2 separate regions of the Homo sapiens genome follow, and region 1 is linked to region 2. The links come from fine-mapping of genetic effects on gene expression. A gene starts in region 2. The other region holds a variant in brackets. All regions are shown on one strand. Distances are from middle to middle. Region 1 overlaps NARF (nuclear prelamin A recognition factor). Region 2 holds the start of NARF (nuclear prelamin A recognition factor).

Region 1 (4,384 bases), 23 kb before region 2:
AAGCTCACAGAGATAGGATGATGAAATATACACTGGTTGCATTTTTTTTTTTTTGAGATGGAGTCTCACCTCCGCCGCCCAGGCTGGAGTCCAGTGGTGCAATCTTGTCTCGCTGTAACCTCTGCCTCCCGGGTTCAAGTGATTCTCTTGCCGCAGCCTCCTGAGTAGCTGTGATTACAGGTGTGCACTACCACGCCTGGCTAATTTTTGTATTTTTAGTAGAGACGGGGGTTTCACCATGTTGGCCAGACTGGTCTCGAACTCCTGACCTCAGGTGACCAGCCTGCCTCAGCCTCCTGAAGTGCTGGGATTACACGTGTCAGCCACTGCACCCAGCCCTTTTTTTTTTAAGAAACAAGGTCGCCAGTCTAGCCAACATGGCGAAACCCCCTCTCTACTAAAAACACAAAAATTAGCCTGGTGTGGTGGGGCGCACCTGTAATCCCAGCTACTCGGGAGGCTGAGGGAGGAGAATCGCTTGATCCTAGGAGGCGCGGAGGTTGTAGTGAGCCAAGATGGAGCCACTGCAGAGCCTGGGTGACAGAGTGAGACTCCGTCTCAAAAAATAAAAAAAAAGAGACGAGGTCTCACTGTGTTGCCCAGCAAGGTCTCAAACTCCTGGGCTCAAGTGATCCTCCAGCCATAGCCTCCTGAGTGGCTGGAATTAGAGGTCTGAGCCATTGTACCCAGCTACATTTATATGACAATTGTTTATTCTGCAATGAGATCAACTGAAAGTGAGAACCACTTTCTGTATTTCCTTTTACATGAGGATGCCTGAAAAAACCCTTAATAGAAAAACTGAGCCTCTAAAACTATGGCTGTGGCATCACATTAGATGCTGTGAGATGGCTGGAAACACAGGTAAGAAAATAGCGTAATTTCCTATAAATCTGCACTCAGAAAAAAGATGGCTGGACATGGTTCTTCTGACAGCCCACCGCGCATGTTTTATTTTGTCAACGTAAGCAGATGGCCCCTGGGCCCTTCCTCTGAGAGTGAAGGATGGCCGTGCTGAGGACCCTTCTATCCCTCATCCTTCAACACCCCTGCCACATCACCCCACAGGGAGCCTGTGCCTATGGGGTGGGGACCTTTCCAGAGGCGTCTGCGTGCTAGAATTTCAAGTCAGGGGCCTGTGAGGGACATTGGCGCCCTTAAAGATTGTCCCTGAGAGCTGACCTCTCTGCCTCATCTACCACTGATCTAAATACCTGCAGGGACCTGTTTTCAGAGACCAATTAAAACAGTTCCGCCAGAATTTTAACAAAGTCTTAAGCTTCCCCCACCAACTGATGTCAACATTCTTCTGAATGGGTTCTACATAATTCCAGGGAATCACTTCCATCCACAACACACACAGAACTCACTGTAGGCTCTTAACATCTGAAAGGAGTGGCCAATACCGTGGTAAAGGCAATATCACTGGAGCAAACGTGCCTTTTTCATTTTATTCTGAATGAAAAAAACTTCACTTGTGTTTTAAGTGCAGACTTGGTTTGTGATTAGGAGACCCGCTATGGCTATAGACAACTTTCCCACCAAGAGATAAGTACCTTACATGGACTGTAATGTAAAGTTAGGGCCACCACACTGCCCAAGTGGTTCTCCCAGGACCTGATTTATCTTTTTTTTTTTTTTTTGAGACAAAGTTTTACTCTTGTTGCCCAGGCTGGAGGGTAATGGCGCGATCTCGGCTTACTGCAACCTCTGCCTCCCGGGTTCAAGCGATTCTCCTGCCTCAGCCTCCCGAGCAGCTGGGATTACAGGCATGTGCCA[C/T]CATGCCCGGCTAGTTTTTTGTAGTTTTAGTAGAGACGGGGTTTCTCCATGTTGGTCAGGCTGGTCTCGAACTCCTGACCTCAGGTGATCCACCTGCCTTGGCCTCCCAGTGCTTAGATTACAGGCGTGAGCCACTGTGCCCAGCTGAGACCTGATTTATCTTGAGGAAGATGCACAGAGGAGACAGGAGGCTAGATCGAACATGACCCTTCTCTTCACCTGCAGTTAAGCCCCTAGGACCCTCAGCTGTCAGTAACTTCAGACAAGCGACCACATTGGCAGGCACTGAGATGGCTCTGGGACACAGATCTGCCTGGCTCTGGTGTGTACTGGCCAGTAGGAGATTACCCCAGCGCCCAGGTGCACCCCCGCCCACCTCTCACCTGATGTTAACACGCAGTCAGCGCCCCGGGAGCCATGCAAAGCAGGGGGAAGGCTTTCCTGAAGAGCCTCCAGCTTCTTGTCATAACAAGGGGCCACAATGACGTGGAAAATCTTCTCTGGAGACAGGTTCTGTGGGAGAGGGGCACCCATATTTAGGGCTGGTGAAGAGGTGACGGCAGCTTACGCTTGGTGCCCAGAACAAGAGGGATGGGAGACCGAATGCCCCCTGCTGCTGCCCTCCAGACACTGCATGCTGCACTCTTTTTTTTTTTTTTTTTTTGAAATGGAGTCTTGCTCTGTCACCAGGTTGGAGTGCAGTGGCGTGATCTCAGCTCACTGCAAACTCTGCCTCCCGGGTTCAAGCGATTCTCCTGCCTCAGCCTCCCGAGTAGCTGGGACTACAGGCGCATGCCGCCACGCCTGGCTAATTTTTTGTACTTTAGTAGAGATGGGGTTTCACCGTGTTGCCCAGGCTGGTCTCAAACTCCTGAGCTCAGGCAATCTGCCCGCCTCGGCCTCCAAAGTACTAGAATTACAGGCGTGAGCCATCGAGCCTGGCTGCATGCAGCACTTTCTTGGGGCTGGGACTGTTGTGGGTCTGAGGCCGGGCCCCACAGATGAAAGTGCTGTAGCCACATCTGGCTCCCATCCCCTCTTCAACTCTACCGAGCACCAGCACTCCATCCATGTCTGTCTGCTGCCTCCCTCAGGACTGGGTGTGGTCCTCCCAAACATCTGCAAAGCCCCCCAGCCAGTGGAGCCTCCTGGAAGAACCGGGAAGGCTGAGCCCATTTCCTCCTGAACCTGTGCACATGGGGACAAAACAAGTAAGAGGAAGTCCAGCCGGCGTGGAGCTGTTGCTGGTCCAGCATGGAGCCATTGCAGGAGGCCTGAGTGAGTGTGTGTGTGTGTGTGTGTGTGCGCGCGCTGGCTACTTCACCCACAGACTTTCCTGAATCTTCCCAAGCGATGCCCACCCAAGCTACCCCTCTCCTGGGTCCACACAGAGCAGGTGCCTGTGGCTGGGCCTGAACTGGTGGCAAAGCCAGGAGCCAGCAGTTGCCAAGTGACCCTGTGGTGAGGTCTGGGTGGAAAGGACCCACTCAGGGCAGGGGCGGAGCAAAAGAGGAAACCCGCCCCTGGTTGCAGCTGTGCCAGGTGGTCAGGTGAGAGGCTGCTGGAGGCCGGGTCTCTGCGGCTGCCCCTCATGGCACCTACAGGAGGACACATAGCTCTGGGCTCCATCCAGGGGAGAGGGCAGCACGTGGAAGACCTAGAAACACATGGCTCTCTTCAGGTGGGGGCAGGGCAAGGGACAGAAAGTCCCATAGCTCATTTTTCGGTCCTGCCTAAACTGAACGTGTATACTCTGACATCATGTTTATAATTTGCCAAATTATGACTTTATGGGTAGAAAGAAACTAGATAGAAGGAAAACACTGCCTATTGCTAAAATAACAAGGCTGCCAAATGTGCGTGCCTTTTTAGGCTGACTTCAAATGTCTGAAAGATCCTGATGTTACCCTCTACTCCAGTTACCACAGTGCCTGGACATGGCTGCTTCCCCGGAGGGAGGTGTAAAGTCTGATTGAGAAGAGCAGTGTGGGGCATGCCAGCGGCTGGAGAATAAACCATGGGATTAGGGTCCCTTTGAGGGTGGCCTTGGAGACATCAGGGAGTTCTGGGAGGACCTGGGGGCCGCAGAGGGTTGTGGGAAGGGAGAACACGACGGGCCGAGGCAGGGGGCACGCAGGAGCCTCAGGCCGGGACTCACTCCATCAAGAGGAGGACAGCATCATGGCCACTGTGGAATCTCACAGAAGTGGCTAAGGAAGTCATGTGATGCCCGTGGTCTGAGGGAAAGGCCAGGGCAGAGGCCAGGTTTGGCTCCCTAAATGACAGCTGCCCTCAGCCTCCAGGCACAGGCCACTTTAGGCCTCCTTGGGTGAGGCATCCCAACAGCAGGCAGGCAGCATCTCTGGGCAAGGTCCGGGGCCTCATTCTCAGCAGGGTGGGCAGCATTTCTACTCTACCCCGAATGGGCCCAGGAAAACCACCAGATGCCACAGAAAAGGTTAAGAAGAAAGAAAAAGGTTGTAAGAGGAAGGGAGGAATAGAGACGGGCGTTGGTGAGAAACAGCACTGCTGATGTTTCCTGAAGCCACAGCTTCCTTTTTGCTCACCTGGGGGGCCGTGACCACGCTGGACAGATGGGGAACCT
Region 2 (4,384 bases):
CTCATGATCCGCCTGCCTCGGCCTCCCAAAGTTCTGGGATTACAGGCATGAGCCACCACGCCTGGCCTATTTCAGTCTTTTTTTTGGGACAGAGTCTCACTCTGTTGCCCAGGCTGAAGTACAGTGGTACAATCTCAGCTCACTGCAACCTCTGTCTTCCAGGGTCAAGCAATTCTCCTGCCTCAGCCTCCTGAGTAGCTGGGATTACAGGCGTACACCACCATACCTGGATAATTTTTGTATTTTTAGCAGAGATAAGGTTTCACCATGTTGGCCAGGCTGGTCTCAAACTCCTGACCTCAAGTGATCCGTCCACCTCGGCCTCCCAAAGTGCTGGGATTCCAGGCGTGAGCCACCATGCCCGCGTACTTCAGTCTTCTTTAAAGCAGTGATGTGCACGGTGCTGTGAGCCCCCAAAGAGAAAAACAGCAGCAGTAGTTTACTCTGGGCTGATACAAAACTGAAAAATCTACTTGCCTCTCCATTTTCCTGGGCTGGACTCGGTGCATCGGCTGACACATTCTCTTGGTCATCAGTTTTTGTTTTCTTACTACATTCCTTAAAAAAGCAAAGGAACATTATCAATGAACTTTTACTTCGTCTCCCTTAAGAAAATGTGCACATTCTGACCAATGAAGCTCATGTATTTCTATCCTTTCTTTTAGTTTATTTATTTATTTTTTTAGACGGAGTCTCGCTCTCACCCAGGCTGGAGTGCAGGGGCGCAATCTCGGCTCACTGCAGCCTCCACCTCCCGGGTTCAAGCGATTCTCCTGCCTCGGCCTTCTGAGTAGCTGGGATTACAGGTGTGCGCCACCACACCCAGCTAATTTTATATTTTTAGTAGAGACTGGGTTTCGCCATGTTGGCCACGATGGTCTTGAACTGCTGACCTCAGGTGATCCACCCGCCTCGGCCTCCCCTCCCAAGGTGCTGGGATAACAGGCTTGAGCCACCGTGCCTGGCCTTCTATCCTTCTAACCCTTCTAGTGAAACAGGTACTGAAGGACACACACACATCTCTATTGTTTACAATAATAAAAAAGCAGAAGCAACTGTAGCCTTCACCCCACAGGCGAATTCCCCTGGACACAGGTGTACTTAGAATAGGACGCAGCCACCACCGGGGATGAACGACCCATGGAATGTTAGGAAGCCTCCTGCCACGGCGTCACGCGCAGAAGTGCCAGCCACAGAGCAGCATCCACAGGAGCCCATTCCGGCAATAACAGCTACAAAACCCCCCTGCGTGCGCTGCGCGGTTGTTGCCATGGCCTGGAGACAACCGCGGAAGGCGCCGGTCAGCAGCCGTCACCCGCTTCCGCCCCTGCACCGGCTGCTCGGTGACCCTCAGAGGGGCAGGTTCGAAAACGCCTAAAACCCTCTCGAAACGCTTCTGATCATTCCCGCCACGACCGCTGTTTACTCGGACTGTGGTGCGCGGCACGAGAGGCTCGGTCTCCGTGCGTTTCCGCGCTTCGCGGGCGTGGGAAAGATGGACAAGTTCAGGGAGAACCGCGAAGACCGAACCCGCCCTGCAGAGCGCAGCGGACCCCGCGCCGGCCGCCTCCACGCCGAGCGGGCCCAGGGTGCCGAGGCCGGGGGCGCCTTGAAGAGCCCTGAAGCGAGCGAGCGGCGGGCCCGGACCGCCAACCTCGGCCGCCCAGAGCCCCACAGGACAAGCACCAGGCGCGCGCCTCCCCGGCCCGCGGCGCTCACCTTGCGCGTGCAGTGCTCACACTTCATCTGGAGCGCGGCGGGCGGGAGGCCGGGCGCCTCAGCCTCAGGGAAGCACCGGGAGACTGGGACACCACTGCCCGCCGCCCGCGGCCCTTTGTTGTCCTCCCCCGACGCGGCCTCACCCCCAACGGCCGCGCTCGGCCAATGAGAGCACCGGGAGAGGACAAGCCGCACCCCTGGGCCAATAGGATTCCCCACCCTTACGGCTTTGCCTAGGCCAATGACAGTGTCGGGAAGGGGCGGGCCAGGCCCCAGAGCCAATCGGAGCGCGCGGGGCGGACCGCAGGCTCACTCCACGTACGGCGCCGGGGGGACCGGGTCCTTGCGCCGGTTTCCGCTTCTCGTGGGTCCTGCGGCGGCGGCGGCGGCCAAGCGGCGTTCACCAGGGAGTCGGTGAGCGCGCGGACTGTCCCGAGGCCAAGCTGGGGCCGTTCCAGGGTGCTCGGTCCGGTGGTCACGGGGCCTGGAGGCCCCTGGGCCCGCGGAGGCCGCGGCCGGGCTCTGTCAGCCAGCTCGGCGTTGGACACTCGCCTTACTCGCGGCTCCTAACGGGGCGGGCCGGGGGCACAGCCCTCGTCCGCCGCCATTGCCACTTGACGTCGTGTCACGTAGGCTCGGCGGAGTAGCAGCGCGCATGCGCGGCCTGCCTGTCAGTAACCACGTGATGGACCCGGAAGCCCGAGGGCAGATGCTAAATGATGGCCATTTGACATTTGCGTGTGTTCACTATGGATAGTTTTACCAAGTACATTGATTTGGGCCCTTACAGCTTACAAAGTAAAGATAACACTTACTCCTCCAAGAAATTGATTTCAGCTAAGCAAAACATTGATACAGGGCTATAATGGAAGTGTTGGACTCATAAACGTTTTATGAAATCAGTGTGTGTGTATTACAGAAATCAGAAATGAGAAGTAAGAACATGTCTGGGAGAGTGTGACATAAGAAAAATAACTTGTAGGCGTATTTAACAGACAGCAGCAGTTCTCAGGATTCCCCATGTTAGAGCCTTCCTTCCTGTCCTCTGAGAAATGAAAATGAAATCCAAAGACCCCCAACTGACTACACGAACCCCCTACTGGCTAAGGAGATCCCAGGGTTGCCTTGAAGGCAGTTCTCAGCCATGACAGATGGGAGGTGAGACACCTGTTATTAAGGCCAACCCTTGGCTAACTACCATTAGGTTTTCTTGGCTAAGAGCTTAACGGAAACCAGCGCTTTCGAAAGACTCCACCGCTGATAACAACTCTCTCATTTGCAGTTTCGGCCCAATTGACCAGTATTCCTTACTGATAAGAGACACTGACCATGGAGTGGTTCTGGTGAGATGACATGACCCTCGTGAAGGGGCCTGAAGCTTCATTGTGTTTGTGTATGTTTCTCTCTTCAAAAATATTCATGACTTCTCCTGTAGCTTGATAAATATGTATATTTACACACTGCACCTCATAGATTCCTGTTCCCTTTGCCCCTCCCTGGAAGTGTCTGTTTCTGGCTTCTGGCCAGAGGCAGTGCTTCCCTGTCTGTCAGAATGGCCACCCTGCAGGCTGAAACCCTTTATGAGAAGTAAAGCTCTCCTTTCCAGATTTATGAATCTCATCATTCTTCAGCTTGCCATTGCCCATCGGGTTCTTCCTGCCCACTGCACAGACAAAAAGTCAATTCATCAAGATTGCAGCAGGCCGGGAAAAGAGTTTAATTGACACCTGGCAGGCCACACAGGAGACAGTTACTACTCAAATCAGTCTCTCCAAAGGCTCAGCAGTTAGGAGTTTGTTTTTTGTTTTTTTGTTTTTGTTTTTGAGACGGAGTCTCACTCTGTCACCCAGGTTGGAGTGCAGTGGCACAATCTCGGCTCACTACAACCTCCACCTCCCAGGTTCAAGCGATTCTCCTACCTCAGCCTCCTAAGTAGCTGGGACGACAGGCACACGCCACCACGCCTGGCTAATTTTTGTATTTTTTAGTAGAGATGGGGTTTCACCATAATGGCCAGGCTGGTCTTGAACTCCTGACCTTGTGATCCGCCTGCCTCGGCCTCCCAAAGTGCTGGGATTACAGGCATGAGCCACCACGCCTGGCCGCAGTTAGGGTTTTTATGGACAATTTGGTGGGCAGGGGGCTAGGGAATGGATGCTGCTGATTGACTGGGAATGAAATCAAAAGGGTGTGTGGAAAACGGTCCTCAAGCACTGAGTCTGCCTCTGGGTGGGGCCACAGAAACCAATTGAGTCCTGAGTAGCAGGTTGGGGTGGGTTCACTCTGAAAAACATCTCAAAAAGCCATTCTTAGGTCCTGCAATACTGATATTATCTATAGGTGCAATTCGGGAAGTTGCAAATTTTGTGACCTCTGGCCACATGAGTCCTGAGCAGTGAGGGACTGTAGAAACTAGGCCTGCATTTTAGCAGAGTTCAGGCCACTCCCACAATCCTAACCTTGTGGCCTTTCATTAGCTTTACAAAGGCAATTTCAGCCCCAGAAGTGGGAGGTGATAGTTTTAGGAAGGGACTATTATCATCCTTGTTTCAAGGTTAAACTGTAAATTCCTCCCAAAGCTCCTAAAATTAGCTTGGCTTATGCCCAGGAACAACTGGACAGCTTGGATGTCCAAAGGAAGACGGAATTAACTGTGTGAAATTTC

The links. PIP is the estimated chance that this variant, and not a neighbour inherited with it, causes the effect.
Region 1: its variant is fine-mapped to the expression of NARF in whole blood (TOPMed, PIP 0.97).

The regions. Positions count from the first base shown.
Region 1 is chr17:82,478,990-82,483,373 of GRCh38, reverse strand. It overlaps NARF (nuclear prelamin A recognition factor), which reads right to left. Exons shown (of 11, transcript NM_012336.4): 7 at 2,163-2,292. Among named protein-coding and RNA genes, the nearest start is that of TRX-CAT1-8, 14 kb to the left of the region's middle. The variant C/T (reference allele first, on the strand shown) is at 1,780.
Region 2 is chr17:82,456,166-82,460,549 of GRCh38, reverse strand. NARF (nuclear prelamin A recognition factor) reads right to left here and starts at 1,809. Exons shown (of 11, transcript NM_012336.4): 1 at 1,720-1,809; 2 at 478-558. The coding sequence starts at 1,746. NARF-AS2 (NARF antisense RNA 2) reads left to right here and starts at 2,031. Exons shown (of 3, transcript NR_184099.1): 1 at 2,031-2,877; 2 at 3,002-3,112. RefSeq lists enhancers at 1,055-1,887, 2,321-2,470 and a silencer at 1,471-2,290.